3 linked regions of the Homo sapiens genome follow. The protein of the gene in region 3 interacts with the protein of the main gene of each other region in a pairwise test. Each region holds a gene or a part of one and is shown on either strand. Other genes may lie near its edges. The genes, in order: EEF2KMT, CYTH4 and KIAA1328.

Region 1 (10,234 bases), on a different chromosome or scaffold from region 3:
ATCCTGGCCCCGCCCCAGGACCCGCCAACCTGGACTCTACCCAGGACCTGCCCCCTACCCAGGACCTGCCCCAACGACGCTTATCCTGGCCCCACCCCAGGCCCCGCCCTCATAACAATCATCCTGGCCCCGCCCTAGAGTCCGCCCCCACGACGTTCCTCCTGACCCCCGGGGGACCCCCGGGCCCCGCCCCCTCTCTGCCCCCGCTCACTGCCCTGGGCCCGCCCCCTCTTCAGTCCAGGCCGGGCTTCCGCCCGGTCTGCCGGCAACGCTGCGGCCCCGCCCACGTCATGGCGCCCGAGGAGAACGCGGGGACCGAACTCTTGCTGCAGAGTTTCGAGCGCCGCTTCCTGGCGGCACGCACACTGCGCTCCTTCCCCTGGCAGGTGGGCGGCGGGGCGAGCGGAGAGGCCCGCGGGGCTCGCGGGAGTCCAGGGGCAGACGGGACGGGTCTCCGTGCTGAAGCCCCTGGCGCTCCCGCCACGTGAGTTCCTGGGCTCCCGCCGGTCAGGGCCGCGCGACCCGGTCCCCGTCCCTGGGGCCTGGCCAGAGTCGCTCGCACCCCTCCTGCCCCGCGAGCTGGCGGGGGAAGCTGGGGGCGTCTCCACAGCCTTGGGGGGCAGACGCGCGCTCGGTGTGGGGTACAGTTCACGATCATTTTCACGACTTTTTAAAGGCAGTAATCGTTCTGGTCACTGGGACACAGCTGCCCTCGCCCATTCTAAAAAGTCAGCGCCGTCAGGACCGCAGGTAACCACGTCCTCCTGAGCGCGGTGACCGGGTCACAGGCTGTCCCTCGTGCCTCAGTATTCTCATCTGTATGTTGAGCACTGCACAGAATCGGCTCATGCTCTGAGGCTGTCACGCCTGTGATGGAAGAGACAGAGAAGGGGGTGGCCTCTCCTCGCCCTGGGGACCTGCCATTCTCAGCACAGGCCCATGGCAGGCAGCAGCCTCCCTTCTGCCAGCAGAGGGGCTTAATGCACCCGGCCTCATTTGTAATTCATGTGCGGTGAGCTCACTGGGATGAGTGAGTTTGGATATATATTCCTCCCTGGGTCTGCCCCATTTTATGGGGTGTTGCTTAATCATTTGCGTTATTCCATTGACATAAAATATTTGCACTCAGAGATCATTTCTGGTCAAGAGAAATTCGTGCATTTTTAACCCAAAATAGAAACCTTCATAAAAGCATCATAGGTCTCCATTCAGTATTGACTGTAATTGTTCACATGCCCACGCTGAATGCTAACTTGGGCTCACCCTCAACACCCACGAGGTGGGTACTATTATTACCACTCACATTTGACCAGAGGGATTGTTTGATTAGGGTGCAGTAGTTGAGAGTTCAGACCCAGGAGACAGCCTGTCTGCTTCGAATCCTGGCCCAGCCCCTGGCCCTGTGTGACCTTGGGCAAGTGACTGCATCTCTCTGTGCTGTTTTCTTATTAATAAAATGGGGGATATAATGATACCTACCTCTTAGGGTTGTTGTCAGGGTTGAGTACAAAAGCCTGTGGATCAGTGCCTGGCTCATGGTAAATACATGTTGGTGTTAGCTAGTGTTTTTATTCAGTCTCAAAATGTTTAATAAATGCCTTCTGTGAGCCAGGCACCATGGATCAGCAGTACCCATGACAGATGAGGCTCTGCTTGCATGGGAGAGCCAGAGAATAAACAAATAAATAAACAAGAAAAGACCAGATGACAGTGGCTTTAAAGCCAATAAAACAGGGAAATAGTGAATGCGGGAACTGGGAAGAAGAGTCACCAAAGTCAGGGAATCAGGGAAGCCTTCCCCAAAGAGGTGGCATTTGAACTGGGGCCTGAGTGGTGAAGCAGCCAGCCATGGGAAGGGCTTGGGGAACAGGATATGCAAAGGCCCTGTGGTGGAAACAAGCCAGCTGTGGTTGAGGAACAACACCAAGGCAGCCAGTGTGGCTGGAGTGGAGTGAGCAGGGTGGGCCAGGGGTGAGGGAGAACAGGCCAGAGAGAGGGATTAGGACCAGGTCTTGTAGGGCCTTTTATGGCATGGAGGGAGCTCTGAAGCAATGAAGTGCCTTGCCCTGTGTCACATACCAGCCGAGACAGTCTGCCTAACTCGGGAGCCAAGGCTCGCTGCTGGGCTTGAGGCCCCTGTAAGAGGATAATGTAACTCAGGCTGGTATGGGCACATTCTGCATCTCCACTTAGATGGCAAGCCCATCAAACCTTGGTGCCATGGCTGCCCTGGTAATTCCTGGCTGAGCAGTGCAACCAGGGAGCTGGCCCATGACCCGGGTGGCCGCTAAGTAGCCAGGACTAATGTGGCCAAAAGTCAGCCTTCTTCCTGTGACTCATCCAGGTGCACCCTGCGACATCTGAATGTCAGGCTTTCAGCCGCTGTGGCTTCCACTTCCAACTGGCTCCACGTCCCCAGGGAGGGATCACACAGCGCTTTGCCAACACATTCTATTGCGTGTTTAATGTTCCTGTGAATGCGCCCTTGAGATTTCTCTCTTTCCCCTCCACACAGAGCTTAGAAGCAAAGTTAAGAGACTCATCAGATTCTGAGCTGCTGCGGGATATTTTGCACAAGGTAAGAATCCCAGAGTCCCTGGGACTCATGACCCTGCCTCCTGAATCTCTCCAGAAGACCTGAGAGAAGAACTGCAGGTGTGCTTGTACCCTTTAAAAACACCCCTGTTCAAAAAACAAAACCATTGAGTCAGCACTGCAGGTGGGTGTCAGCACCTCTGACAGCTCCAGCGCTTTCGTTTTCTATTTAAGACTTAGACAAAGACTTCAGAATATACAAAAACCTGCAATGAGAGGGGGGAATCTAGGGAATGTTTTTTAAACCATCCACAGCAAAAACAGAGATGACAGGTGCAAAACAGCTTCTAGCATTTGGTTGATGTTCAGAGACTTTCTTTTTTGCTTTCATGAGGCCTGTCCTGCCCACTCCTGTCTCCTCTAGACCTAAATGGGCCCTTGCTTTGCCCAGGGTGGGGTTTGGACTCAAGTGCATCTGCCTGCAGGTGAGAGGCAGGATCACCACCCGGCCCAGCCACAGCCTGACCTTGGCCTTGAGGGCCAAGTGCAGATCACCCTGCATCCTGGGTCTTCACGTTCGAAGGGCCATGAGCCCTTCTGAAAAGACCAAGCAATAGACTCCCTCGCAGAAAGAAGTGCACCAGAAGAATACATTTTCCATACAAACTCAGGAGGCAGATATCCTCCACCCCCACCCACCCAGCCCATCCTAGGAGCCCCGGTGAAGAATTCCTGTGCTAGAGGTGAACCAAGATTATCCATGTGGAAAAGATACAGCCACAGCAGGGAAAACTTTCGGGGCAATACCAGGGCTTCGAGCATGGAGATACCTGAAGTTATCTCGCACCCTGCTCTGAGTTTCACCCTGAGCCTCACTCTCGTAGGTGGTGAAGCATGAAATGTAGGGAGAGCTGCTTTAAAACCCAGCACAAGGCTGGGTGCACTGGCTCACACCTGTAATCCCAGGACTTTGGGAGGCTGAGGTGGACAGATCACCTAAGGTCAGGAGTTCCAGACCAGCCTAGCCAACATGGCAAAAACCCATCTCTACTAAAAATACAAAAATTAGCTGGGCGTGGTGGTACATGCCTATAGTCCCAGCTACTCAGGAGGCTGAGGCAGGAGAATCGCTTGAACCCAGGAGGCAGAGGCTGCAGTGAGCCAAGATCGGGCCACTGCACTCCAGCCTGGGCAACAGGGCGAGACTCTGTGTCAGAATAAATGAAAAACCAGCACCAGCCTGAAGAGCCTGTGTATTGCGTGGGGTACTTTGCTGCCCTTGGGCAGAATCTGCATCCCTCCCAGCCAGCAGGCACTGTGGACCGTCTCCTCCCTCTCCCTCCAGGCTCCTGTTTTCCCGCCGTCCCCACTCCTGCTGCACCAGTCCCTCTGCCCTCCTTTCCAAGTGCCAGGCTGTGGCCACCTCAGAGCTTGCACCAGCTGTTCCCACTGCCTAGAACTTGCTCATCCTGCATTTGGCTTCTCTGGGCTTTAGCTGGAGTGTCACCCGGAGCGTCCCGTCCCCTCCATCCTGTCCCCAGGGACACACACTCCAAGAGAGCAGTTGCCGAGTGGGCCTTCCCGCCTCTTCCATAGAGCCAGACCGTTGGCGACTGTCCTTACTGCAAACCCTGGTTCACACTGGCTCCCCTGGGAGGGAGGCGGTTTGGGCCCACATGCCCTGTGTTCCTGCTCAGAATGGGCGTTAGAAATGCTGCCATAGCCTGTGCCACTGCAGTGGAAGCATTTTTAGGAAACAGCTTATATCTTAAGACAAACTTCAGATGCATGGGGCCAAAACGCTGTGTCCATCTACATCTTTGCTGAGGGATCGGGTAGCCTGGAGTTTGCCCTCTGCTGTGTTGGCTTGAAGCTCATAGGAGACTTAAGACGGGCTCTCGAGCAACCAACGTTCTGTCCTTTGCCGTAGACTGTGAAGCATCCTGTGTGTGTGAAGCACCCGCCGTCCGTCAAATATGCCCGGTGCTTTCTCTCAGAACTCATCAAAAAGGTCAGTTATGGGCAGTGTCCGCCCAGTAGCCGGACAGCATAGCCACCTGCGTGCTGGAGCCCCCGTCCTTCCCAGGCCCTGGGCCTGCTTTGCAAACCCCAGCATGGCAGGGGCCTCCCCAGGCAACTGGCTGCAGCCACATGTGACCCATGGGAGACAGTGCAGGGCGGGAAGAAGGGGAGGCCAGCATCTCTCCCTCACTCTGCCTCCTGGGGTTTCCACGGCAGCTGCTCCTCTGGGGCCCCAGCTCCTAGCATATGGATTCTCATTCCTACCAGGCTGGCCCAGCCCACAGCACTGGAACCCTCACCCGCACCCTCTGTCCTGCCCGCTGAAGGGTTTGGAGTTTCCTGCTCTTGTCCGTCTCTGGGTTGCCCCACAGGCCCCTGTTGGAAGATTTAGCTCTTGCCATACCTTCGGAACTAGTTCCTCTGGTGAATTCTCTGCATTAATCCTGCTGGAATGAGCTCTTTCCTGACTGATAAAGGATGAATTTTATTTTTTACTTATTTATTTATTTTTTTGAGACAGAGTCTCACTGTGTTGCCCAGGCTGGATTACCGTGACACAATCTCGGCTCCCTGAAACCTCTGCCTCCTGGGTTCAAGCAACTGTCATGCCAGCCTCCTAAGAAGCTGGGACTACAGGCACACGCCACCATGCCTGGCTAATTTTTTATTTTTAATAGAGACAGAGTTTCACCATGTTGGCCAGGCTGGTCTCGAACTCCTGACCTCAGGTGATCCGCCTGCCTCGGCCTCCCAAAGTGCTGGGATTACAGGCATGAGCCACCGCACCTGGCCTAGGATGGATTTTAAAGATGCGCCCGAACATGCAGGGTTTGACATGAGGATGTCGAGAGGCCTCCTCAGTAGGCAGTAGCAGACCTGCTGAGTGAAAGAGCCACACTTTTAGCAAATAAACAATCCCCTGCTTCTCCAATACCTGCTTTCTCCCTAGTCCTCCCCAGAAGCATGCATCTGTGGTCACCAGCAGGTCTGCCCTGTGCCACCAGGAGAGGGCAGCAGTCACCCAGTGTACTCTGCTGCTGCCCTGTGAATCATAGGACGGGGCCAGCTGTGGAGAAGCGGCCTGCTGACAGCCACAGCCTGCAGCATGGGCCGCCCTCACACTTCTGCCTGGGCTCACTTAAAAGCACCTTTTGTTTTCCTCCTCTCTGTGTTTGATCCAAACACGGCTCTCTATCATGGTCACCTGGCAACTCTCACGGAATCCTTGTCTCCTGCCCTAGACTACACCTAACCCTACCCTCCCAACACCTCTGGTTCAAGGCCCTCCCATCCAGGTTTCCCTACCAAGTGAATTTTTTTTTTTAGAGACAAGGTCTCTGTTGCCCAGGCTGTCCTCGAACTCCTGGGCTCAAGCAGTCCTCCCATGTCAGCCTCTAGAGTAGCTGGGACTATTCGGCACACACCACCAAGCCCAACGAAGTGAATATTTTATATGGCAGCTGGCCGGTATTATACCATTCCATCGCAAATCTCCCCTCCAAACTTGGTGAAAATCATCTGGCCATTTTTACAGATTAGAACGAAAGCAAACAAGCTCTCACTCTGTCTGCCCCCAGCACGAGGCTGTCCACACAGAGCCTTTGGACGAGCTGTATGAAGCGCTGGCGGAGACCCTGATGGCCAAGGAGTCCACCCAGGGCCACCGGAGCTATTTGCTGGTATGAGAAGGGCACCCTCCTCCCCCTCACAGCCCAGATACCCTTCCTGCACAGACAAAGTGAAAACGTGGGTGTGGGTTCAAATCCTGACTCACCCATTCTACAGTCTTAGACATGAGGTCCGTCAACCTTCTTTAGCCTCAGTTTCCCTGTCTGTAAATCAGGCACTTCAACAACAACAGCATGTCTCGTGGAGTTGTTGGGCACTTATCCAATAGGTGACACACACTACCTGCTTCACAAGGACCTGGTGCCCAGTCCTCAAAGAATACTTGACAGGGCTGGGCGTGGTGGCTCACGCCTGTAATCCCAGCGCTTTGGGAGGCCGAAGTGGTTGCATCTGAGGTCAGGAGTTCGAGACCAACCTGGCCAATATGGTGAAACCCTGTCTCTACTAAAAATACAAAAATCAGGCCGGGCGTGGTGGCTCATGCCTGTAATCCCAGCATTTTGGGAGGCTGAGGCGGGGGGATCACCTGAGGTCAGGAGTTTGAGACCAGCCTGGCCAACATGGTGAAACTCCATCTTTACTAAAAATACAAAAATTAGCGGGGTGTGGTAGTGGGCACCTGTAATCCCAGCTACTAGGGAGGCTGAGGCAGGAGAATCTCTTCAACCCAGGAGGTGGAGGTTGTAGTGAGCCAAGATCATGCTATTGCACTCCAGCCTGGGCAACGAGAGCAAATCTCTGTCTCAAAAAAAAGTACAAAAAGTAGCCGGACATGGTGGCACACGCCTGTATTCGCAGCTACCTGGGCGGCTGAGGCAGGAGAATTGCTTGAACCCAGGAGGCAGAGGTTGCAGTGAGCCAAGATCGTGCCACTGACTCCAGCCTGGGTGACAGAGCTCAAAAAAAAATAAGATAAAACATAGATACAGAAAACCACAAAGGAAAAACAGCATATTGAATCATCACAAGGCAGCCACCCCTTCATAGCCACACCTGTCCCCTGGCCACCACTGACATGTGTTCCATCGCCAGAATTCCGTTGTCTCAGGAAGGTTCGATGAATGGAATCCTGTGTGGCCTGAGATGAGTGTCTTTCACACCGCGTGACACCCTTGAGGCCCGTGAAAGCTGTTGGCATGCCAACAGTTAGCTGCTTCTCATTGCTGAGTGGCGATTGGTCCTGTCATGGTTTATTCAGCCATGTGGTGGGGCTACTTGTCTTCTAAGCCACTTGCCTTCTGATCGCTGGACTGACTCTCTCGCCTTCTCTTGGTGCAGCCCTCGGGAGGCTCGGTCACACTCTCCGAGAGCACGGCCATCATCTCCTACGGTACCACAGGCCTGGTCACATGGGACGCCGCCCTCTACCTTGCAGAATGGGCCATCGAGAACCCGGCAGTCTTCACTAACAGGTGACCTCGGGGCGCAGGGCAGGGCACCGAGGCAGGCTTACCCTGGTGCAGTCGCAGACACGGTCCCCTTTCCTCCCGCCAGGACTGTCCTAGAGCTTGGCAGTGGTGCTGGCCTCACAGGCCTGGCCATCTGCAAGATGTGCCGCCCCCGGGCATACATCTTCAGCGACTGTCACAGCCGGGTCCTTGAGCAGCTCCGAGGGAATGTCCTTCTCAATGGCCTCTCATTAGAGGCAGACATCACTGCCAAGTTAGACAGCCCCAGGGTGACAGTGGCCCAGCTGGACTGGGACGTCGCGACGGTCCATCAGCTCTCTGCCTTCCAGCCAGATGTTGTCATTGCAGCAGGTAATGCCCAGCCCCGGGCACCCTGTGCAGGTGGTGTCCTTGCAGCTCTACCCAGCTCTTGGCTCTGGGAAAAGGGAACAATGGACGCTGTCGGGCATGGACATGATGGGGCTTCCAGAAGAGTTACTCTGGGCCTCCAGGGTGACATCACAGGACAGGGGTGCCTCTTAAGGTGACCTTCAACCCACAGCCCTCTTTTTGGAGACAGGCATACTCCCGTTCCAGTCGTTACCACATGGCTCTGTCCCAGAGCCATGCCCTGTGTCCTTCAGAGACCACAGGAGGAAAACAACCACTTCTGGGACGAAGACAGGGCCCTTGAGAGAAGGTGGTGTTTGGCTGGGCCACCGAAAACCCCTCACCCCTGCCAGCACACTCAGTCCCCTCTCTGGTGGAACAGAGCTCTGCCTGTGGTCCTAGGTCCCAGCCCTGAAACCCACAGGTCCAGCGGTGGCCAGGGACACAAGCCCACCCCTGCAAGCCAGCAGACAAATCAGCAGATGCCTGAAACATGAAGTTCATGGCAGGGTCAGGCTTTGTGTCATTCAAAGCCCTCTAGATAGGCCAAGAACCAGAGCTGGTTTTTTAAGGAACACCAGTGAGTCTGGAGATTTTTTTCTTTTGCTTCGGTCTTTTGCAGCTTTCTCTACTAAGGGTTCTCCTTTTTCACCCAAGTAATTGCCTTTCCATCTAATGGCCCAAATGGTCAAATGGCATCTACTAGTCTCATATGACCGCTGCCTCTCTGGCCTCGCCCTGCTGCTGACGTCAGCATGACCTGGACCTGTCCACTGGTCCCTTTCAGTAACCTGAAGCTTTCACCATAGATGTGCTGTATTGCCCAGAAGCCATCATGTCGCTGGTCGGGGTCCTGCGGAGGCTGGCTGCCTGCCGGGAGCACCAGCGGGCTCCTGAGGTCTACGTGGCCTTTACCGTCCGCAACCCAGAGACGTGCCAGCTGTTCACCACCGAGCTAGGTGAGCCTCCACGCCCACCCGGGCCTGCATGGTCCCTGAGCTGTCCCTGCAGGACGCCAGTGGAAGTGAAAGAACTGGGTGCCGGGGAAAAGCTAGGTTGCCCCACACTCCCACACCATGGGGGGAACTCAGGCAGAGGCCAGTGAGCAGGGTGGGCTTGGGGCGTGGGGGGCTTGCGGCAGGAGGAGGGCAGCTCAGCACAGGGAGGGAGGGTCTGAGCCCAGCAGCCCTACTGTGTGCTTCAGAGCAGGGTTCCCTAAGCCCTTGGGCCTCGGTTTCCTCATCTATAAAATGGAGGTGGCGGGAGGGGCAGTCGGGGTCAGGGCTGGACACAGCTGTGGCCTGCAGGACGCTGGAGCACAGGATGTACAGGCGGATCCACCACGCCACTGTCCTGAGCACCCAGTCGGTGGAAGACGAGCAGGGTGACTGTAGAGAAGGGGAACTGGCCCCATAGTGGGCCAGCAACTGTCCTCAGACCTGACATTTGTCAGCCCCCAGCAACTGTGAGGGTGTGCTGTCACTGTCCCATCTCACCAACAAAGACACTAGGACACACGGAGGCCAAGAGACCCCCGAGCTCCCGCAGACTGCACCCCAGCCACCTGGCTCTCACGCCTCCACACTACACCCAAGCCCCCCAGTGCCACCAGCCTTTGCCCCAGCTCCCCCTGAGCACAGCCCCTCCTGGCAGCCATGTGCACAGATGCACATGCAGCAGCCTCTGCCTGCACACAGAGACACAGACAACCCAGTGCCTGTCCACGTGGGGCAGCCCGTTAACTACAGAGCCAACAAACAAGCCAGCACACGAAGACGTACTGGGTTCCACGACAGAGTCCCCCCACAACCTCGCACAGGAGGCTGGCCGGGCGCAGGGCTCAGGCCTGTCATCCCAGCACTTTAGGAGGCTAAGGCAAGAGGACTACTTGACCCCAGGTGTTCAAGACCAACCTGGGCCACATAGTGGGACCCCATCTTCACAAAACATACAGAAGCTAGCCAGATGTGGTTGCACACGCCTGTAGTCCCAGCTACTCAGGAGGCTGAGGTGGGAGGATGGCTTGAGCCCAGGAGATGGAGGCTGCAGTGAGCCCTGATCTCACCACTGCACTCCAGCCTGGGCAACAGAGCAAGACCCTGTCTCAAAAAAGCAAAGAAATAAAAAATAAAAAAAAAAAAAGGAAGTCTTTCTTCAGATACTTACGTGAAAAAAAACCTGCAATATATTTTAAGTGAAAAAAACAGTGCCAAGCAGCACACATAGTATAAGCCCCCACCCACCTTTTTTTTTTTTTTTTTTTTTGAGAC
Region 2 (10,234 bases), on a different chromosome or scaffold from region 3:
TATTGTTGTTATGACAACTAGATCCAGAGAAGAGGCCAGGATGGTCCCTCGCCCACCCTGTCCTCTGGATGTCTTCACATGGGCATTGGGTTAGCCCTGGGAGAGAGGGCTATGGAGGACTGACCTTTATGTATCTCCTTCTATGCCCCTTTTGCCCCCTACACCCTGCCCAGGCTGTTTCATGTTTCTGGGCCTTTGTTCCAACTGAAACTCCTGCCAAAAAGGCCCTTTCTCCCCTTAACCTCCTGGAAAACTCCTACTCATCCTTCAAAACCCCATTCAGACCTCACCGCCTCTGAGAAGCCATCTTGGACATGCTGATTCCCTTACTCCTGCCCTCAGAAAGGGGTGCTGCTGCCTTAGCCTTAGCATCCTGTGCCATCGTCTCCTGACTGCTCTCCTAAGAACTGTGTCTCAAGGCAGCTCTGTCAGACAAGCACCCAGCAGCAATGAAGTCAGTGCTCAGTGAGGGCTCATGAAGGGGTCTGGGCTGCCAGGGTCTGGGTACCTGGGGGAAACCTGAGGGGGTCTGTGAAATCTATGCCTGGCAATGCTGAAGGGGTCCCGGAGCCCTGGGTCCCACTCCCCTCCTGGCACCTGTGGACTGGAAGACGCCTGGGTTGCAGAGGCAGTATCGAGTGGCAAAGGCCTCCATCATCCGGTCTATCTTCTGGGCCTCGCCCGGCAGCCGGAAGCTCCACAGGAACTGCCTGGGGGAGAAACGGGGCCACGGGCAGTGGAGTGGGTGGGCCCTCGCGGGCCCCAGACAAGCTGCCCTGCCTCTCCCAGGTTTAGTCTCTGTATCCTGTAAATGGGGGAATCTGCAACTGTCATCTGGGCTGACGGGGAAGTGGGATGGGCACCAGGGAGCCCCAAGCACGCGGGAGGTAGCCAAGAAATGCCTTTTCTTGCAGAATACGGAACTAAGCACACGCCCCGCTCTGCAGGTCTGAATCCCAGCACTGACTGCAGCCCAGTCTGCCTCAGCTGGGAAGGGGGACGGCCTCTGCCTGCCCCGGGGTCTGTGGCTCCCCGCACCTGGCCTTTGGGCCCTGAGATCTGGCTGTGGGACCTAGTTGGGGAAGAGGTGGGGCAGGGGTTTTGCCTTGCTAGGGCTCCCTTTCTTGGAACCTCGACTTCCCTCTAGCTCTGGAAGTTGGTGGTTTCGACAGCTTCAAGCTAAGTTCTCTGAAGGTGAGAACTGGGCCTGTATCTCTCACTTCTCCTCCTGGGCTTCACACAGTCCTGGGCACCTAGCAAAGGCTCAGTAAATAAGTGAATGAATGAATGAATATGTGAATGAATGAATGAAAGAATGAATATGGGAGACTCCCAAGTCACCTACCCCTCTCCCTTAAAGAGCTGGGAGTTAGAGAACACTGGATGGTGGTGGCTTCTTCCTTCTCTGTATTGTGAACTCCTACTCACCCTCCAAAGCCCAGATCAGATGCTCCTTCTCGGAATCTGAGTTTTCAAGCAGCATCAAGACTTACTAAGCACTCACTGTGGACCAGTTTTAAACACTTTCCCATTTAGTCTTCACAACCCTGTGAAGTTGGTACTATTATTATCCCCATTCTACGGATGAGGAAACTGGGGCACAGGAAGGTTTATTTATTTTTTTGTGAGACAGAGCCTCACTCTGTTGCCCAGGCTGGAGTGCAGTGGTGTGATCTTGTCTCACTACAACCTCCACCTCCCAGGTCCAGGTGATTCTCCTGCCTCAGCCTCCCGAGTAGCTGGGATTACAGGCGCCCGCCACCACGCCCGGCTAATTTTTGTATTTTGTGCATGTGTATGGCTTGCTTAAGGTCACACGGGGGTGAGCAGCAGAGCTGGGATTTGAACTGTATAGTCTGGCTCCAGAGTTTGTGCTTCAAACTGATAATTGGACTGCCTCTGCAGTTGTAAAAATGAGTACCAAAAACAGTACCCTAATTAGAAGCTAATAAGTCATAATAATTGGAATACATGCTAAGCAGTCTTATAAAATAAATAAAACATGCACTAATCCAAAAAGTAGGAGAATGACCATAATAAAGTAATAATGATTAGAATGATTAAATATGGGCATGATAGAATTCTAACTAAGAAGGCAGTATTTGCTATTTGCAAGGAACTAGGCCCTTTCCCAGGCGGTCCAGCTCAGCTCTGTGAGGCAGTACTATCATGAAGTCATTCTTGTTCCTTGCCTCCTCTTCTTTGCTCCCAACCCTTTGTTTGTGCTGTCAGCTATGTGGATCGCGACACCCCCAGCCACTGGGGCTGTGCCACCCTTGAGGGCCGGGACCCTGCCCCAGGACTACTCACCTGAGGGCCTGGACGAGGTTGAGGTTGGCGAACTCGTGGCAGTCCACGAAGGCCTGGAGGACCTGCAGGTTGATGGGATCCCTGGGGGAGGAGGCGGAAGGGAGGGTGGGACACACTTGGATACTTGCTGGCACCCACCTCCTGGAGGGGGTTGAGGTGGGGGAGGGAGAGGACAGAGACATCTGTCCTTCTGGGGTCCAGCTGCCATCTGGTGTGTTCACATCTGTCCCACCCATATCACACCCTGAGGGCACACCCTTGTCCTCCCATGCAGGAACACACACCTTCACGGCTCACCAGCGCTGGTCTGGCCTGGGAGGGGAGCCCTGGCTTTGGAGCGGCCTTGCCCTCAGTCCAGGCCTTCCTCATTTCCTGTAACTTCCCACCTGGTGACCTCGCGGAAGCCACTTGACCTTCCCAGCCCCAGCTTCCTCATCTGTACAAGGGAGAGAAGCTGACCTCCCCCATCTCCTCCCTCTCCCCAGCTCCTGAAGCAGGAAGGTGCCCTTCTCACCGTCTGCATCCCCTGCTCACCGCGGGAGGGAGGGGTGTCCTTGGGAGCTGGGGAGAGGGCTGTTGACTCTCTGGTCCAGCTTCACCCCTATCCACTCGCCCACCCCTCAGACCAGTCCTTTGCCCAGAGCGCTCCCACAGATCCCCACCTCCTCGCCCACAATATCCTTCCTCTCTCCTCCCGTCCAGTCTAGATTCTTGAGCCTGTTTCTGACCCCAGGGCCTTTTTACTTGCTACTCCTGGACCGCTCCTCCCCCAGATGTCTGTACTGCTCATGCCCTCACCTCTTTTACGTTTTGGTCAAATGTCACCTTCTCCATGAGACCCTTCCTGTCCACGCTATTCTAAATCACAGCCCCCAACCTATGGTCCCCAGCATGTCTTTCTTTCTTTGTTTTCTTTTCTTTTCTTTTTTTTTTTGAGACGGAGTCTCGTTCTCAATCTGTTGCCCAGGCTGGAGTGCAATGGCGTGATCTTGGCTCACTACAACCTCCGACTCCCAGGCTCAAGCGATTCCCCTGCTTCAGCCTCCTGAGTAACTGGGACTACAGGCACCTGCCACCACATCCGGCTAATTTTTGTATTTTTAGTAGAGACGGGGTTTCACCACGTTGGCTAGGCTGATCTGGAACTCCTGACCTCGCGATCTGCCTGCCTCGGCCTCCCAAAGTGCTGGGATTACAGGCATGAGCCCCGAGCCTGGCCGGTCCCCAGCATTTCTGACTTCCCTTCCCTGCTCGATTTGTATTCCACAGAGCTTATCATTCTCTAACATATTTTACAACTATTGAGACCTGTCTCTCCCACTAGCATGGACTTCCTGAGGACAAGAGTTTTGTCTGTCTTATTCACTGGTGTACACCCAGGGCTTAGGATGGTGCCTGGAACACAGTAGACCCTGAGCAACATTTATTTGTTGAATAAATGACTAAATGAATGAAGGCAGTCAGGCTTTGACTCAGAATCTGGAGGGGATGATCCGTGAGCCCCTCAAGCACTAGGAGTGATGACTTTGCTAACATAATTCATCCTCTCACCTGCACATCCACACACCTGTACACACCTGCACACCTTCATTTCCTGCCTCGCTAAGGCTCCACTCGTTCTTACCTCTCCCCCAGGTAGGTACCAATGGCTGTCTTGTTGAGGCCCTCGCCTTTATACAGGAACCGTGCAATGTCCTGGACGTCAGGGGTCAGCAGCTTGTGCTCAATGAAATACTGGATACCCTGGAGGGGGTACACAGAAGCCGTGAGCAGCTGCTGCATGGAAGCAGGCCTGGGAGGGGGAAGGGAGGAAGGAGCTTCCATGGCCAGAATCCTGGAGCCTGGCATTCTGGTGTTGGCACAGTCTGTTCTGGGAAGTTTTGACCCCTCTTTCATAGGAGCTGCCTTTGGGAGGTGATGAGTTCCCCATCACTGGAGGCATGCAAAGAAAGTCAGCTTTCCTGCCATGAACCAGGTTCATGCCAGGTACTCCCCAGGGTCCCCCTCAGTCTGACATTCTTTGATTATATGCTTCAGTGACTCTAGGAATTTGTGATTCTGAGATTCAATGATTCAGCCATTTCTTTTGTTCCCCTAAAACTCATATTATTTAAAAATAGCGTTTCATTCTTTCACACAAGTAATCTATGTCTATTGTATAAAAGTTAGAAAAACCAGCTCAATCCAAAGGGGAGGAAATTGCCCGGGCCCTACCGCTCGGAGGCAGACAGCTTCCATCGTGGTGACCTTCCTTCCCTTTCTATGTGAAAATGGGCTCAGACCATGCCTGTCACATTTAAATCTGTTTTTCGGATTTGACAATATCACAAGCACCTCTCCTCACCACCAAGGCACTCAGAGTTTGTCATCCTAGTTTTAGGAGTTGGAGGGGTTGGTCTCTGGCTCTCCGTGAAGATTCCTCTGTGTTCCACTGCTGGAAGTTGGGCACAGGCCATGAGGGCCCAGTGACAGGCAGAGGATGCAGAGGACACCCCTGGGTGCTGGGTGGGGTGAGAGTGTGAGCCTGCGGGGGTCTCTGTGGGTAGGAGCAGGAGTCCAAGGGTCTGTAGCCATGAGAGGTGAATGGTTATAACACTTTGGGCCTGTGATGGGGACAGGGAGCCTTCTAAGCCAGAGCGGTAAATTTCCAGGGACCCCAGCTTGGTGCTCTCTGCTGGCCACCTGACCCCACCTCGGTGTGTCTGCCTGCGGTTTCCTTCTGTCTCCGTCCTTTCAGGATGGAAGCCCAGCTGCCACCTGGTGGGGTGAGGCCAGGGGCTTGGGAGTGGTGTGGGGGATCGAGGTAACCCAGCCCTGAGCTGCTGCTCCTACTAGCAGAGGGGTGGGTGGTGGGACCGCAGGACTGGCCCTCCCTGAGCCCAGGGCTGGAAGATGCTTCTGGAGCCTAAGCCCCAGATCCAAGAGCTCCACTGTCCCAAGCCACATTCATGGAGAAGGAAATGGAGGCCCAGAGTGGGGAAGGGACTAGGCCAAGTGCATGGACACCGTGGCCTCCTCCATGCTCCTGGCTCCTCCTGCCCCAAGGCGTGTATGCCTGGGAGTAGACAGGGCGCCCAGCCACAGCTGGCCATGGGGCACTGGACAAGATGCTCAGCTCTGCTGGGCACAGCTTCCTCCTCTGGAAAGGGGTCGTGTCAGCCGAGGGGAGCGAGAGGACACCAGGCAGGTGCTCCCATGCAGCCCCCACACCCTGTGGCCCGGGCCCTCCACAGCCACCTACCTTGGCGGGGTCCATGTTGAACTTCTTGCGCCCAATACACAGCTCCTTCTCCTTCTGGGCCATCCGGCTGTGGACATGAGGACGTCAGCTTGGGCTGCCCCAGGACCCTGAATTACCCTCTCCACTCCCCAAGGACCCTTGCCTCAGCAGGAGCCCATACCCCTCTAGGGCCCTCCAAGTGTGGCCTCCGGGTCCTGCATGGGAACCACCTGGGCGGGAGAGAGCAGTGCAAGGCCTGGCTCCTCCCAGAGCTCTGCAGCTGACTTCTCTGATGGGCCCAGCACGGGCATTTAGCAGCTTGCAGGAACCCGGAGCTGCCGTGTGGGAGAAGGTGGAGGGGCCCTGTGCAAGAAACCGGGGGAGGGGGCGAGGGCTGAGCACGCAGGTGCTGGAGCCAGGCTCCTGGATGCGAATCTGAGCCGGGCTGCTTTGGGCGAGTCACTTCCTCTCTCTGGGCCTCAGGTTCCTCATCTATAAAATGGAGGTGATACCACCACCTGCCTCCCAGCATTGTTGAGAGGTTAAAGCACCTAAAACAGTGAGGCGTAGGTGTGTTATGTTGTCATTGTTGTGGCTGGAACAGGGGAGCTGGAGAAACGGCCACTCGTGTGTGTGCATGCTTGTGTGTGTGTGCATGCTTGTGTGTGTGTGCATGCTTGTGTGTGTGTGCATGCGTGTGTGTGTGTGCATGTGTGTGGTGGGGGAGGGGAGGAGGCTGGACAGGTGGAGACCTAAGGAGTGGCGGGCGCAGGATGGGAAATTGCCAGGACATCGTGTGTCAGAGTCAGTGCACTGGGGCCTTAGGAGACTGTGTAGCAACCAACCTTCTTGTTGCACAGATGGGGAAACTGAGACCCAGAGAGGGACAGGATCTGTCCCAGATCACAAAATAGTGGGAGTTTTCCACAGAGGCGGTGGGCGTGGCTGGCCCGGGGTTAGTGGTGAGTGGGGTGGGGTAGGGCCAGGCTCCTGTCCTCCTGGGGCCCTGGGCTTCCTTGTCCTTGCCCTTGGGGCTGAGCTTCCCTTCTCCCCGCCCATCCCAGGGTGGATGTGGCCAGTGATCGGTCAGGGCTGGACCACAGTGGGTCAGGAGAGACTTTGGGTTGGGGGAGGGGAGGACGCAGTGTCTCTCAAGAGAGGGTCAGCCTGGGAGCAGGGACCAGACCCGGGATGGGGCCGGGGCCACCCTGTTCCGGTCTCGTTGCTGCCTCCTTCTCCCTGGCCAATCCCTGATTTCACCAGGTCCAGGGGGCTGGGAGTGGCCCCTGCTCATTCAAGGTGTATGACATCCTTGGGAAGCAACCATGGCAGTTTCTGGGGGTCCCCACCCAAGCCCCTCACCTCTCCTCCGCACTCTCGAAGCAGTCGATTTGGGCAAACACATCTGCAATCTCATCCTTCAGCTTCTGTGGGGTGGCAGGGGCAGGACAGGGAGAGTCAGGGGTGGAGGCCAGAACCCCGGGGGTTTGAGACCACAAGGACCACTCCTACCCCTGGGCACGACTCTCAAACCTGGCCCCTCTCCCTGACCTCTGTCCTGAGTCCCCAGTCTGAGGGACCCTCCATGGACAGGTCCCCTCCCTGGATGTCTCATAATTTCTAAGTCGCATGCTAAACTATCACCTCTGTCTGCACCCATGCCTCCACTTGTCTTGGGGAGTGGGATTCCCCAAGCCCCCATCCCTTGCCCATCCTTTTTCCAACCTTCCCATCTCTCCTCTCTGCAGCCATGAAGTCTCCTGCACTCTAGCCGAGCCTACCCGACAAGCCGGCCTCCCCACTGCCCACCTCCCCCAGCCCACCTCCACCCTGCCCGCCTCCACCCTGCCCACCTCCACCCTGCCTGCACCCCCCGCCCGCCTCCACCCTGCCCACCTCCCCCAGCCCACCTCCACCCTGCCCGCCTCCACCCTGCCTGCCTCTCCCGGCTGGTGTCTTTCTGGAGCACTGCATGGAGCCTGCCCTTCCCCTGCTCAAACCCCTCCCATGGCTCCCTACTGCTTCCTCAGCTTCTCTCTGGCTTTCCTCCATTTACTATGTTGCTCACCCTTGACTAAGTGCCCGCTATGTGCCTGCCAGGTACTACGGGGACACCACGCACAGGCAGCCTAGGCCCTCTTTCCAGGGACTTTGCAATTCCCCTGGACTTTACAGAAGAGGACACTGAGGCGTAGAGAGATGACACGACACGCCCGCAGTCTGACTCCAAACCTGTGCTTCCCCCAACTCGACCCCAAGCCCATTTCATCTTGACCCTGCAGGAGGCACCCAGTGGCAGAGGGGACCCCCTAACACCTCCCCCTGCCAACCACCAGCACCCCCTGAAGGACACCAGCATGAGCCTCTGGCCGGCACCCCCATTAGGCACCCAGCCCCTTTCTCCCCAGGATCTGCAGGGTGCTGGTGAGGGGCTGGTTCCAGGGACTTGTCCTGAGACTCAGGGCCAGCATGGGACTTGGGAGCCTGTGTCTGAGCCGTGTCAGCTCCTGTTCATGCCATCTTGGCAGAGCCACTGAGTGGTTGCCCCACAAATACAATGGGGATTCATTTGCAAGTATTAACTGAGCACCTATTAATGCTGCACCCAGCGGGCTGGGGATGCAGTGGTGGGCAAGACAGACCTCGGCTCTGTGTTCATGGAGGGCACAGTCTGGTGGGGCTGGGATCATGGGTGGTCATAGGGTAATTGGAATGACTATGCAGAACACCATCAGAGCAAGGTAGAGAAATCCTGGCATATAGTAGGTGCTCAATGAAACAGCAGCTGAGTGAATAATTTTGTGCCTTCATTTCCTCACTGAAATCCTAAGTTTATGTGCATGGGAGTGGGGGTGGGCACAGCCACTGCAGCCCAGGCAGAGGGGACTGCGAGTGCAAAGGCCCAGGGGCAGTGCTGAGCAAGGCACGTTCCAGGAACAGAACCCAGCCTGTCTCAGAAGCTGCTGACCCAGATGAGCTGACGTCTGAGTCTGATTGGTGAAGTGGTAAGTGCAGGGCACATACTGGGAGTTATCTTGACCAGGTGGTCTACACTCTGCAGGGGTGAGACCTGGCTGAAGCTTCACCACAGGGGTCAGAGCCTGCCCTGTGACAAAGCAAGTAAAGGCCAGGATGAGGATCGGCACACGGTGGGCGCCTAATTGGATCGCTGCCTCCCTCCCCGGCTCTCCCAGTTCTCCCTGGGTCTCGGGGTGTCTGCAGTCTTGTTGTTCTCCCTGCTCCTGGGGCTGGGGCCGAGGCTGATATGAGCCAGAGTTGGCCACACTGTCTGTTGACCAGGCTGGGTCAGGAGCTGGTGGGGTGCGTACAAGCGTGCAGGAGTGTGGGCATGGACACGTGTGTGGACACGAGTGTGCACTCACCTGGATGTCCTCCAGGAGCTGCTTTCGGTGCCACTTGATCCTCTGTAACTCTTCCGTCTCCCCGCTGCTCAGCTCCGCGGGCTCTACAGAGAGACAACCGGCCTTCCCCATCACTTGGCTCCAGCCACACCCACTTGCCCTCACTTCTGCAGGGCCCCCTTCCCTCCGGAAACCCAGGACTTGCCCTATTCACAGAGGCCCACCTCCTCCAGGAAGCCTCCCCTGACTGCCCTGTCTAAAGCAGCCCCTGCTCCCTCCTCTCCTGCCCTGCTTCCTGTTTCTCCCACCCCCCTGGATAGACACCCCCAAAAGGATCCTGTTTCCTTGCATCTTTTCTGTCCCTCCCGCTAGACTCTCGGCTCCATGAGAGTTCAGTTGTTCTACTCTTTTGCTCACTACTGTGTCCCCAGCACCTAGAAAGAGTCTGACATGTCATAAGCACTCAGTTAAACACTCGCTGAAGGCACGCATTCCTTCCCCGGAACTTGAATCTCCTCCTCCACTGGCTCATGGGCTCATTATTTATTCACTTATTTATTTGAACAACCAAGAAGTGGTATACCATTTTCCTCACATCCCATTGGCCAGAATGTAGTCACGTGGCCACACCTAGCTGCAAGGGAGGCTGGGAAATGAGCCTGTAGCAGGGTGGTCCTGATGTCCTTACTGTGTAAAATGGGGAGGCTGGATTTGGGGGATATTTTATAGTCCCTGCCCCTGGATACTGGGGCTCAGAGAGGTGAGGTGACTCAACCCACAGGGAAAAGGTCACTGAGCCAGGATGGGACCTTGAATTGGGCTGACTCCAAAGCCTGTGCTCTTTCATCTCCACTTGGAAATGAATTAAATGAAATAAGATTTGTGTGTGCGGCATTCTATGCAAGGTGCTGTGATGATGCCCACAACTAGGTCAGCTGTCCTATCTTCATGCTTCATGGTGGCTTCTGTTTCATCCACAACACTCTCCTTCTCTGAGTAATATGGCCTCCCTATTACTCAGAGAGAAAGTCTTCATCCTGGGCCTGGGGCCTCCACAACCTCTCCAGCCTTGGCAGCCAGACTTATTCCCTGCCATTCCCAAAAAGAGCCTGCCAGTCCAGCCTGCCAGCTCCTTCCTGCTCCAGAGCCATCCAGGACTCAGTCCCACTTCCCCATGTTTGCCCAGGCCGCTCCTGTACTCTGGGATGCCTTCTCCTGTCTGCCTGCCCAAATCCTCGCTGACCTTCAAGTTCCAGCGTCGGGAAGTGCCTGGCCGCATTTCTTAAAGGTTTTACAAGGATAGACATCATTTCCTCCAAAAGAACACAGAGGGAATGTTGAG
Region 3 (10,234 bases):
GGAGTTCACTCATGATTTGGCTCTCTGTTTGTCTGTTATTGCTGTATAGGAATGCTTGTGATTTTTGCACATTGATTTTGTATCCTGAGATTTGCTGAAGTTGCTTATCAGCTTAAGGAGATTTGGGGCTGAGATGATGGGGTTTTCTAAATATACCATCATGTCATCTGCAAACCTGGACAATTTGACTTCCTCTTTTCCTAATTGAATACCCTTTATTTCTTTCTCTACCTGATTGCCCTGGCCAGAACTTCCAACACTATGTTGAATAGGAGTGGTGAGAGAGGGCATCCCTGTCTTGTGCCAGTTTTCAAAGGGAATGCTTCCAGTTTTTGCCCATTCAGTATGATATTGGCTGTGGGTTTGTCATAAATAGCTCTTATTATTTCAGGATACATTCCATCAGTACCTAGTTTATTGAGAGTTTTTAGTATGAAGGCTGTTGAATTTTGTTGAAGGCATTGTCTGCATCTATTGAGATAATCATGTGGTTTTTGTCTTTAGTTCTGTTTTGTGATGGATTACATTTATTGATTTGCGTATGTCGAACCAGCCTTGCATCCCAGGGATGAAGCCAACTTGATCGTGGTGGATAAGCTTTTTGATGCGCTGCTGGATTTGGTTTGCCAGTATTTTATTGCAGATTTTTGCATCGATGTTCATCAGGGATATTGGTCTAAAATTCTCTTTTTTTGTTGTGTCTCTGCCAGGCTTTGGTATCAGGATGATGCTGGCATCATAAAATGAGTTAGGGAGGATTCCCTCTTTTTCTATTGATTGGAATAGTTTCAGAAGGAATGGTACCAGCTCCTCTTTGTACCTCTGATAGAATTCGGCTGTGAATCCTTCTGGTCCTGGACTTTTTTTGGTTGGTAGGCTATTAATTATTGCCTCAATTTCTGAGCCTGTTATTGGTCTATTCAGGGATTCAACTTCTTCCTGGTTTAGTCTTGGGAGGGTGTATGTGTCGAGGAATTTATCCATTTCTTGTAGATTTTCTAGTGTATTTGCTTAGAAGTGTTTATAGTATTCTCTGATGGTAGTTTGTACTTCTGTGGAATCGGTGGTGATATCCCCTTTATCATTTTTTATCGCATCTCTTTGACTCTTCTCCCTTTTCTTCCTTATTAATCTTGCTATTGGTCTATCAATTTTGTTTCTTTTCAAAAAACCAGCTCCTGGATTCATTGATTTTTTGAAGGTTTTTTGTGTCTCTATCTCCTTCAGTTGTCCTCTGATCTTAGTTGTTTCTTGCTTTCTGCTAGGTTTTGAATTTGTTTGCTCTTGCTTTTCTAGTTCTTTTAATTGTGATGTTAGGGTGTTGATTTTAGATCTTTCCTGCTTTCTCTTGTGGGCAGTTAGTGCTATAAATTTCCCTCTACACACTGCTTTAAATATGTCCCAGATATTCTGGTACGTCATGTCTTTGTTCTCGTTGGTTTCAAAGAACATCTTTCTTTCTGCCTTCATTTTGTTATTTACTCAGTAGTCATTCAGGAGCAGGTTGTTCAGTTTCCATGTAGCTGTGCAGTTTTGAGTGAGTTTCTTAACCCTGAGTTTGAATTTGATTGCACCGTGGTTGTGATTTCTGCTCTTTTACATTTGCTGAGGAGTGCTTTACTTCTAACTATGTGGTCAGTTTTGGAATAAATGTGATGCGGTGCTGAGAAGAGTGTATATTCTGTTGATTTGGGGTGGAGAGTTATGTAGACATCTGTTAGGTCCGCTTGGTGCATAGCTGAGTTAAAGTCCTGGATATCCTTGTTAACCTGCTGTCTCGTTGATCTATCTAATATTGACAGTGGGGTGTTAAAATCTCCCATTATTATTTTGTGGGAGTCTATGTCTCCTTGTACTCTCTGAGGACTTGCTTTATGAATCTGGGTGCTCCTGTATTGGGTGCATATATATTTAGGATAGTTAGCTCTTCCTGTTGAATTGATCCCTTTACCATTCTTTGATTGCCTTCTTTGTCTCTTTTTTTTTTTTTTTTTGTCTTTGTTGGTTTAAAGTCTGTTTTATCAGAGACTAGGATTGCAACCCCTGCTTTTTTTTTGTTTTTTTTTTGTTTGTTTTTTTTTTGCTTTCCATTTGCTTGGTAGATCTTCCTCCATCCCTTTATTTTGAGCCTGTGTGTGTCTCTGCACGTGAGATGAGTCTCCTGAATACAGCACACTGATGGGTCTTGATTCTTTATCCAATTTGCCAGTCTGTGTCTTTTAATTGGGGCATTTAGCCCATTTACATTTAAGGTTAATATTGTTATGTGTGAATTCAATCCTGTCATTATGATGTTAGCTGGTTATTTTGCTCGTAGTTGATGCAGTTTCCTCCTAGCATCGATGGTCTTTACAATTTGGCATGTTTTTGCGGTGGCTGGTACCGGTTGTTCCTTTCCATGTTTAGTGCTTCCTTCAGGAGCTCTTGTAAGGCAGGCCTGGTGGTGACAAAATCTCTCAGCATTTGCTTATCTATAAAGGATTTTATTTTGCCTTTACTAATGAAGCTTAGTTTGGCTGGATATGAAATTCTGGGTTGAAAATTCTTTTCTTTAAGAATGTTGAATATTGGCCCCCACTCTCTTCTGGCTTGTAGAGTTTCTGCCGAGAGATCAGCTGTTAGTCCAATGGGCTTCCCTTTGTGGGTAACCTGACCTTTCTCTCTGGCTGCCCTTAACATTTTTTGCTTCATTTCAACCTTGGTGAATCTGACAATTATGTGTCTTGGGGTTGCTCTTCTCAAGGAGTATCTTTGTGGTGTTCTCTGTATTTCCTGAATTTGAATGTTGGCCTGCCTTGCTAGATTGGGGAAATTCACCTGCATAATATCCTGAAGAGTGTTTTCCAGCTTGGTTCCATTCTCCCTGTCACTTTCAGGTACACCAATCAAACGTAGATTTGGTCTTTTCACATAGTCTCATATTTCTTGGAGGCTTTGTTCGTTTCTTTTTACTCTTTTTTCTCTAAACTTCTTGCTTCATTTCATTTGTTATAGCCACAGGAGTTAGAGAAAATGCCACACTTTGAGACAAATTAAGAGTCCTTTATTTAAGCCGGCGGCCAAAGAGATGGCTAATGCTCAAAATTCTCTTGGCCCCGATGAAGGGGCTTAACTTTTATACCTAGGTTTAGGAAGGGGAGGGGGACTTAAATGCAATAACTCTACAGAAGTAAAAACATGCAAGAATCAAAAGAAGCAAATGGTTACAGAGAAATGAACAATTTAAAAGACAAATGGTTACAAAAAGAGCAAGGGTACCAGGTGCAAGGCTCTAAATCCTTCATTATAGTTAGATATAAATGCTATGCCAGACAGGAACTCAAGGCTTTGTGTTGTTATCTCTTTGAGCAAAACCCTGGGAACTTCATACATTGTTTGCTCCAGTATCTTACCAGTTAATTGGGCTCCTTTGAAATGCTGAGGATCTGCTTACACAGGTTAACTCCTTAAGGAAGGGGGTTGGGTAAGGAGCCCTTAATGTCTTGTAAATCAAGAGGTCAAATGGAGTTTGTCCGGCTTTCCCAGCCAGGGAGAGTGTATTCATATGGGAAACATGGCTGGCAATTAAGGAGACAAAAAAAGGAAAATTTAAAGTAGTGAGCTAGAGTAAAAAACAAGGTTAGGCGTTACACATTCATTTGATCTTCAGTCACTGATACCCTTTCTTCCACTCGATGGAATCAGCTTCTGAAGCTTATGCATGCGTCACGTAGTTCTCCTGCCATGGTTTTCAGCTCCATCAGGTCATTTAAGGTCTTCTCTACACTGTTTATTCTAGTTAGCCATTCGTCTAATCTTTTTTCAAGGTTTTTAGCTTCCTTGAGATGGGTTCATACATCCTCCTTTAGCTTGGAGAATTTTGTTATTTCCAACCTTCTGAAGCCTACTTCTGTCAACTTGTCAAAGTTATTCTCTGTCCAGCTTTGTTCCATTGCTGGCGAGGAGCTGTGATCCTTTGGAGAAGAGGCACTCTGGTTTTTAGAATTGTCAGCTTTTCTGCTCTGGTTTCTCCCCATCTTTGTGGTTTTATCTACCTTTGATCTCTGATGATGGTGACCTACAGATGGGGTTTTGGTGTTGATGTCCTTTTTGTTGATGTTGATGCTATTCCTTTCTGTTTGTTAGTTTTCCTTCTAACAGTCAGGTGTCTCAGCTGCAGGTCTGTTAGAGTTTGCTGGAGGTCCACTCCAGACCCTGTTTGCCTGGGTGTCACCAGCAGATGGCTGCAGAACCGCAAATATTGCAGAACTGCAATATTGCTGCCTGATCCTTCCTCTGGAAGCTTCATCTCAAGGGGCACCCAGCTGTATGAGGTGTCAGTCGGCCCCTACTGGGAGGTGTCTCCCAGTTAGGCTACACAGGGGTCAGGGACCCACTTGAGGCAGTCTGTCCGTTCTCAGAGGTCAAACACCATGCTGGGAAAACCACTGCTCTCTTCAGAGCTGTCAGGGATGTTTAAGTCTGCAGAAGTTCCTGCTGCCTTCTGTTCAGCTCTGCCCTTCCCCCAGAGGTGGAGTCTACAGAGGCAGGCAGGCCTCGTTGACCTGCGGTGGGCTCCACCCAGTTTGAGCCTCCTGGCTGCTTTGTTTACCTACTGAAGCCTCAGCAATGGCAGATGCCCCTACCCCTGCCAGGCTGCTGTCTCGCGGGTCGATCTCAGACTGCTGCACTAACAGTGAGCAAGCCTCCGTGGGCATGGGACCTACTGAGCCAGGTGTGGTTTATAATCTTCTGGTGTGCCATTTGCTAAGACTGTTGGAAAAGCGCAGTGTTTGGGTGGCAGTGTCCCTATTTTCCAGGTACTGCCTGTCATGGCTTCCCTTGGCTAGGAAAGGGAAGTCCCCCGACCCCTTGCGCTTCCTGGGTGAGGTGATGCCCCACCTTGCTTCGGCTTGCCCTCTGTGGGCTGCACCCACTGTCCATCCAGTCCCAATGAGATGAACCAGGTACCTCAGCTGGAAATGCAGAAATCACCCATCTTCTTTGTCGATCACACTGGGAGCTGCAGACTGGTGCTGTTCCTATTCAGCCATCTTGGAACTGTATCCCCCAATTTTTTCTAATTTTTAATTTTGAGGAGGATCTTTCTGTTGATGCAACTGACAGTGGAGCTGCTAAGAGTATTTTGTAGGCTGTGCCAACATTTGCATAGATTTCTAATAAAGTATTTCCAAATATGAATTTTAGTTTATATAGAGGTGATTATTCTTGGGGATCAGATTTTCTAAAAAGATTTAACTCTTCATACACATTAGTTTCATACATGTTGGAATTTAATTTTAAATACAAATCTCTATGATGTCATTTTAATGTTTTCTCTAGCATGTTCTGTAACATATAAAGATCATATAAGAAACCAAAAATCACTTAATGATTTGTCTATAATTCACAGTGCTTGTTTATGCTTTCTATAGCAGCATCTTCAGTTACAAAGAAAAATTAAATTTAAAAATTGTATTCCTCATTAATAATTGGTTCATTAGAAATTGCATATGAGAATAGTGGGTTTTTTCCTATCAAATGCAACAATCTTTAATTTTTATTTCCAAACCTGTGGATGTTCGCTTTCCAGTGTTGTAGCAGTTTTTAAAACCAGAGATTCTAAACTCTTTGAAGGCTTCTAATATATCTCTGATATGCTTCATTGTAATGTCCACGTGTATGTTTTTATTTTCTAATAATTTACTGGCATTTATACTTAATGCTAGCAGTTCCTATCCCAGTTCTCAGGCCAGAAAGATGACATTTTTGCCACAGGGATGGGCTTGGGAAACAGACAACCCAGCCTCTCACCACTGCTGCTTCTGCCATTGTCACCACCATTAATTTGGAGCTAGGTTCTGGCCCCAGCTATCCCCTTAGGGCCCTATGTGGTACTCCAAACTGTTTTTGTTTGTTTGGTTGGTTGGTTGGTTGGTTTTTTGTTTGTTTGTTTGCTCTATTGCCCAGGCTGGAGTGCAGTGGCACGATCTCAGCTCACTGCAGCCTCCACTTTCCAGGTTCAAGCGATTCTCCTGCCTCAGCCTCCTGAGTAGCTGGGGCTACAGGCACATGCCACCATGCCCGCCTAATTTTTGTATTTTTAGTAGAGACAGAGTTTCACCATGTTGTCCAGGCTGGTCTTGAACTCCTGACCTCAAGTGATCCACCCACCTCGGCCTCCCAAAGTGCTGGGATTACAGGCATGAACCACCTCACCCGGCCCCCAGAATGTTTTTTTACCTCTAAGCTGCTCTGCACTTACCCTTTCTGAAAAGAATGCTGGACACAAGGCAGTCTTTCTTTGGAGGGATGTCTTTATAGATTTAGAATCTTTTCCCAAACTTCTAGAAAAAGTGGAAGGGGGTTAACAGGAAGGAACTAACATTTATTCAGTGCCTATTATGTATTCATTTATATCAATGAATTCATTTAATCCTAACTGGAGTTTTGCTAGCCTCTTACACATGAAAAGACTGAACTGAGACACTGAATAACTTCCCCAATATTACACAGCTTGCAAATGGTAGAACAGAGATTTGAACCAAGCGTGTCTGTCTGTGAAGATTTCGACAGACAGCTTTAGTGTCCTGGATGAGAGTGCTGGAGACAAACCACCTGGGTTCAATTCTAGACTCTGCTGTGTAATTGCTTTCTGTTAGATGAGTTACTTCCCTGAGCTTTAATTTCCGCATGTTTATAATGGAGATGAGAGTAGTATAGTACCTACTTCCTAGGGTTCATTAGAGGATTATAGGAAGGTTAAATATTTGTAGTGTTAGGAACAGTGCCTGACAGTAAGCCTGCAGTAAATGTCACTGTTAATATCATTACTGTTATCATGATTACTCTTCCCACTCTACAATCTCTCTTCATAAGTTATAAAGGAATGTTAGGGGTCAGCAAAAGAGAAGAGCTTATGTACAGGCAGCAGGGCCTAGGTTCTTCAAGTCCTTCTGGTGTTTACCTTCACAAAAATTCCCTTAAGCATCATCTTATGCATGATGTGATCTGTAATCTAATTCTTGCCCTGGACAGCCCATTTCTGCTGGGCTTCTTGAATTCTCATTTTCTAATAATCTGATCCTTTCCTGTCTGGGTTATATGTCTTACAGGTATGAGACATCTTTGTTGGATTTGGTTCAGTCTCTGAGCCCAAACTCTGCGCCCAAACCTCAGCGCTATCCCTCCAGAGAAGCTGGGGCCTGGAATCATGGTACTTTCCGACTCAGTCCTCTAAAATCAACCCGGAAGAAGATGGGGATGCACAGAACCCCTGAAGAGTTGGAGGAGAATCAGATTCTGGAAGATATATTTTTCATTTGACATATTGCAAAATTTTCTTAGGAAATTTGTGGGTTTCCTCACATACTGATCTAGGATTTTAAATTATTTCATTGCAAAGTAATTGTGTCTCTCCTTTCACGGGGACTTGTCTCACTAGCATCCTGTTACGTATTGAATATAGAAATCATTCTAACAACCCAGGTTATTTTCAATCAGACCAGGCATTCGATAACACACTAAGGGGGTAGGAATGGAAGATGGTATCTTTTATATGCTAAACAGATTAGAAAATTAACATAGGATACTTTCTGCGTGGTGGAAACCATTGCATATTCAGCCTCATTTCAAGAGTGTTTCCTTCTCAAACTTCTGCTAGAAAATGCTGACTCACTTTTATATACAAGAAAAACCTTTCCACTGAAAAATCCCTCTGATTTAAAAGTAACCCCTTTGAAACATAAGCAGTTTCAGAAAGGCAGACTCTCTCATCTTTCTCATCCTGTTCTCTCACTACTACATTTCTGTAAGTGGTCCTTTAATTCTGAAGTTGGAGTTGGTGCCCCTGCCATCACAAACAACACGAGAGCCAATTGTGAGTCAGTCTCAGTAGCCATCAGCCTGGCAGCTGCCCATCCCATAACCAAAGAGCTCAATGGGCTGGAGGGTGAGACCCAGCCAATCCTTGGGAGCAAGCAGCACTAAATCACATCAGGGAGTGATTAGTCCTGGGGAAATTCAGTGGAGGCACAAGCCTGAAGCACTCTTCTACCAATGTTTGGGTGACCACCCCTCCAATATCCCAGAATGAATAAGAACAATCCCTAGGTATTTTTATTTACCCAAGTGTTCAGCTTATTCACCCCACCCCCCCACCCCCCATCACACGTGCTCCTGTGAACTTTCCATGGTTATGTCTACGGAAAATGCCACTAGAGAGAGAGTGATGCAAGCTGCTGCAAAGCTGATGGGCTTCCTCTGGCCCTCCCTTTTCCTCCACGAGGATTAAAGGATACAAGCTGACCAGGCCTCACAGGTGCTCTGCTCGTGGCCCCAAAGAACCATCTCTACTTGCCAGAGTATGTTCCACCACCCAAGCAGGGTCTCCCTACTTTTTCTCACTGGCCTCGTTTTGACCCAGAGAAAGCCTATGGAAGTTATGCAGTGCAGACCTCATCCTGTCTGCTGTCTTTTCTCCCACAGAGCTCTTGAGATGGGTCCTTCAGCTTGCAGTGGTCCCTAGTAGCCTCTCAAGCTAATGGGGATGATGATCCTGGTTTAGCCAGAGTTCAAAACTCTCCAGTCATTGAAAGCAAGGGGAGGGTGTGTTCCCAGATGTGTATTACTTGGGAATTTTATTTGATCTGGAGGGTGTGGCTTTTTTTCTCTCCTTTTTACCAACCCCAACTAAACTGGGAGTAAGACTTAGTCAGTGTTGGTAGACAAAGTCATACCACCCAGGGCAGCCTGCATGCAGCGAGTCTGCGTGGCTTCCCTGAATTACTCTTTTAATTAAAACTAGATTATTTCAATCTAGAAAAGCCTTGTTGAGCAGCCTCCTTATCCAGATAGATCCAAAGCTCATGTCTCTTCAGGCTGAGACTGGCGCTGTCACCTCCACCCAGCCTTCTTTCACTTGGGGTTTTTTATTCTTTGGAGTAGAAAAGAATGGAGCCCACTAATATTATATTTTTCTTCTGAAATAAATATAAAGTCAAGACTAACTAGTTATAATCATTCCCTTAAAAAGTTGGAAAATCATTACAGATTAAAATTTCTTTATAAAGTTCACCTCTGAGAGTAACCAAATCGGTTTCATCCCATATCAAAAAGCCTTTGGAGTGTGGAGCTTTCTGTGGTATGGCAGAAATGGGTGGATGGCAAACTAAGAGCCCTCAGCCATTTTTTCAGTTAAAGTTAGGTTGCCAGAACTTTCTTTTCCTTGCCCCCTGTGTCATGACTAGCTTAAGTGTACTTGACTCCCATAGACTACTCCCATGCCCACAGTCACCCATTCCAGACTCCAGTGTCCTTAAAACTCTGGAGTGAGAGGATGCCAGAGGATCAAGAAAAGGATCACAGTTTCTTGAAGAAGCTTGTTTGCCTTTAGAAGAATCGTAAACAGAGTCTAAACTAAAGGCTTTTTGGGGGTCACAGCCACAGAGTGGAGTTTTATTGCTTCTTTGCCTCTCCATGAATGGCCAATTTGGAAAAGCAGAGATGGGCTTTCAGCAGAATATCAACCAATACATTTTTCACATGCAAAACTCATCACCAGTTGCCTTTTTCTAACTTAATGGACATTTTGTTGGTGTTGGTGCAAGGGCAATAGGATGTAAATTTGTATATAATCTAATGTCTTCATTATTAATTGAATAGTACATGTTAACATTTTAATCTATTTAAATTTACTTTGAAATATATACATACATATGAATGAAAGGTTGTTACAGAGCCTCAAAGCTGTTGCAGACTATCCCAAGAGAAAGGATCTGGCACAAAGGAATCTGCCTTTCCTCCGTCTCAAGTCTCCCACCCTTGACTGGTTGGGATTTGCTCGTCCAGCCTCTAGACACTTCCCAAAGCAAGACTGGACACATGCCGAGGGCGTTGCGGATAGTGCCTCACCATTGCCCACCCTGCTGCCCAACTCCTGTGAGAGAAAAACCAATCAATGTTTACAAAATGGAAAAGGACACAGCATGTCCTTTGAACTCCCTAAGTAAGGCCCACAGTTCTTGATGCAGAGAACCAAAGTGAATCATAGAAAAGCTTTTGCTAACAGTCCGCTTTCCAGGAGGCAAACTTGTGTTTATCCAAACCTGATCCCCATGATGGGGACTTTTCTAGAGCACCCCAAATGTCATGGGGAGAGAGGGACTCTTTCTGCTCCCTCAGAGCTACTCTTCACTTGTCCCTGCTTCCGGCACCAAGTTCATAATAGAGATCTTCTGGCCAGAGAATCAGGGGA

The links.
Region 1: the proteins of KIAA1328 (region 3) and EEF2KMT interact in binary tests that used the Homo sapiens proteins (3 or more experiments, as listed by UniProt).
Region 2: the proteins of KIAA1328 (region 3) and CYTH4 interact in binary tests that used the Homo sapiens proteins (3 or more experiments, as listed by UniProt).

The regions. Positions count from the first base shown.
Region 1 is NC_000016.10:5,087,796-5,098,029, reverse strand, and holds the start of EEF2KMT (protein-lysine N-methyltransferase EEF2KMT), read left to right. Parts: upstream 1-234; 5' UTR 235-290; coding exon 291-386; intron 387-676; exon of another isoform or gene 677-750; intron 751-2,515; coding exon 2,516-2,578; intron 2,579-4,465; coding exon 4,466-4,546; intron 4,547-6,134; coding exon 6,135-6,236; intron 6,237-7,464; coding exon 7,465-7,598; intron 7,599-7,680; coding exon 7,681-7,946; intron 7,947-8,773; coding exon 8,774-8,923; intron 8,924-10,234. UniProt on the Homo sapiens protein: Catalyzes the trimethylation of eukaryotic elongation factor 2 (EEF2) on 'Lys-525'.
Region 2 is NC_000022.11:37,291,383-37,301,616, reverse strand, and holds part of CYTH4 (cytohesin-4), read right to left. Parts: intron 9,016-10,234; exon of another isoform or gene 8,997-9,015; coding exon 8,914-8,996; intron 6,958-8,913; coding exon 6,893-6,957; intron 5,619-6,892; coding exon 5,552-5,618; intron 4,054-5,551; coding exon 3,935-4,053; intron 2,392-3,934; coding exon 2,311-2,391; intron 711-2,310; coding exon 598-710; intron 1-597. UniProt on the Homo sapiens protein: Promotes guanine-nucleotide exchange on ARF1 and ARF5. Promotes the activation of ARF factors through replacement of GDP with GTP.
Region 3 is NC_000018.10:37,214,923-37,225,156, forward strand, and holds part of KIAA1328 (protein hinderin), read left to right. Parts: intron 1-7,094; coding exon 7,095-7,305; 3' UTR 7,306-10,234. UniProt on the Homo sapiens protein: Competes with SMC1 for binding to SMC3. May affect the availability of SMC3 to engage in the formation of multimeric protein complexes.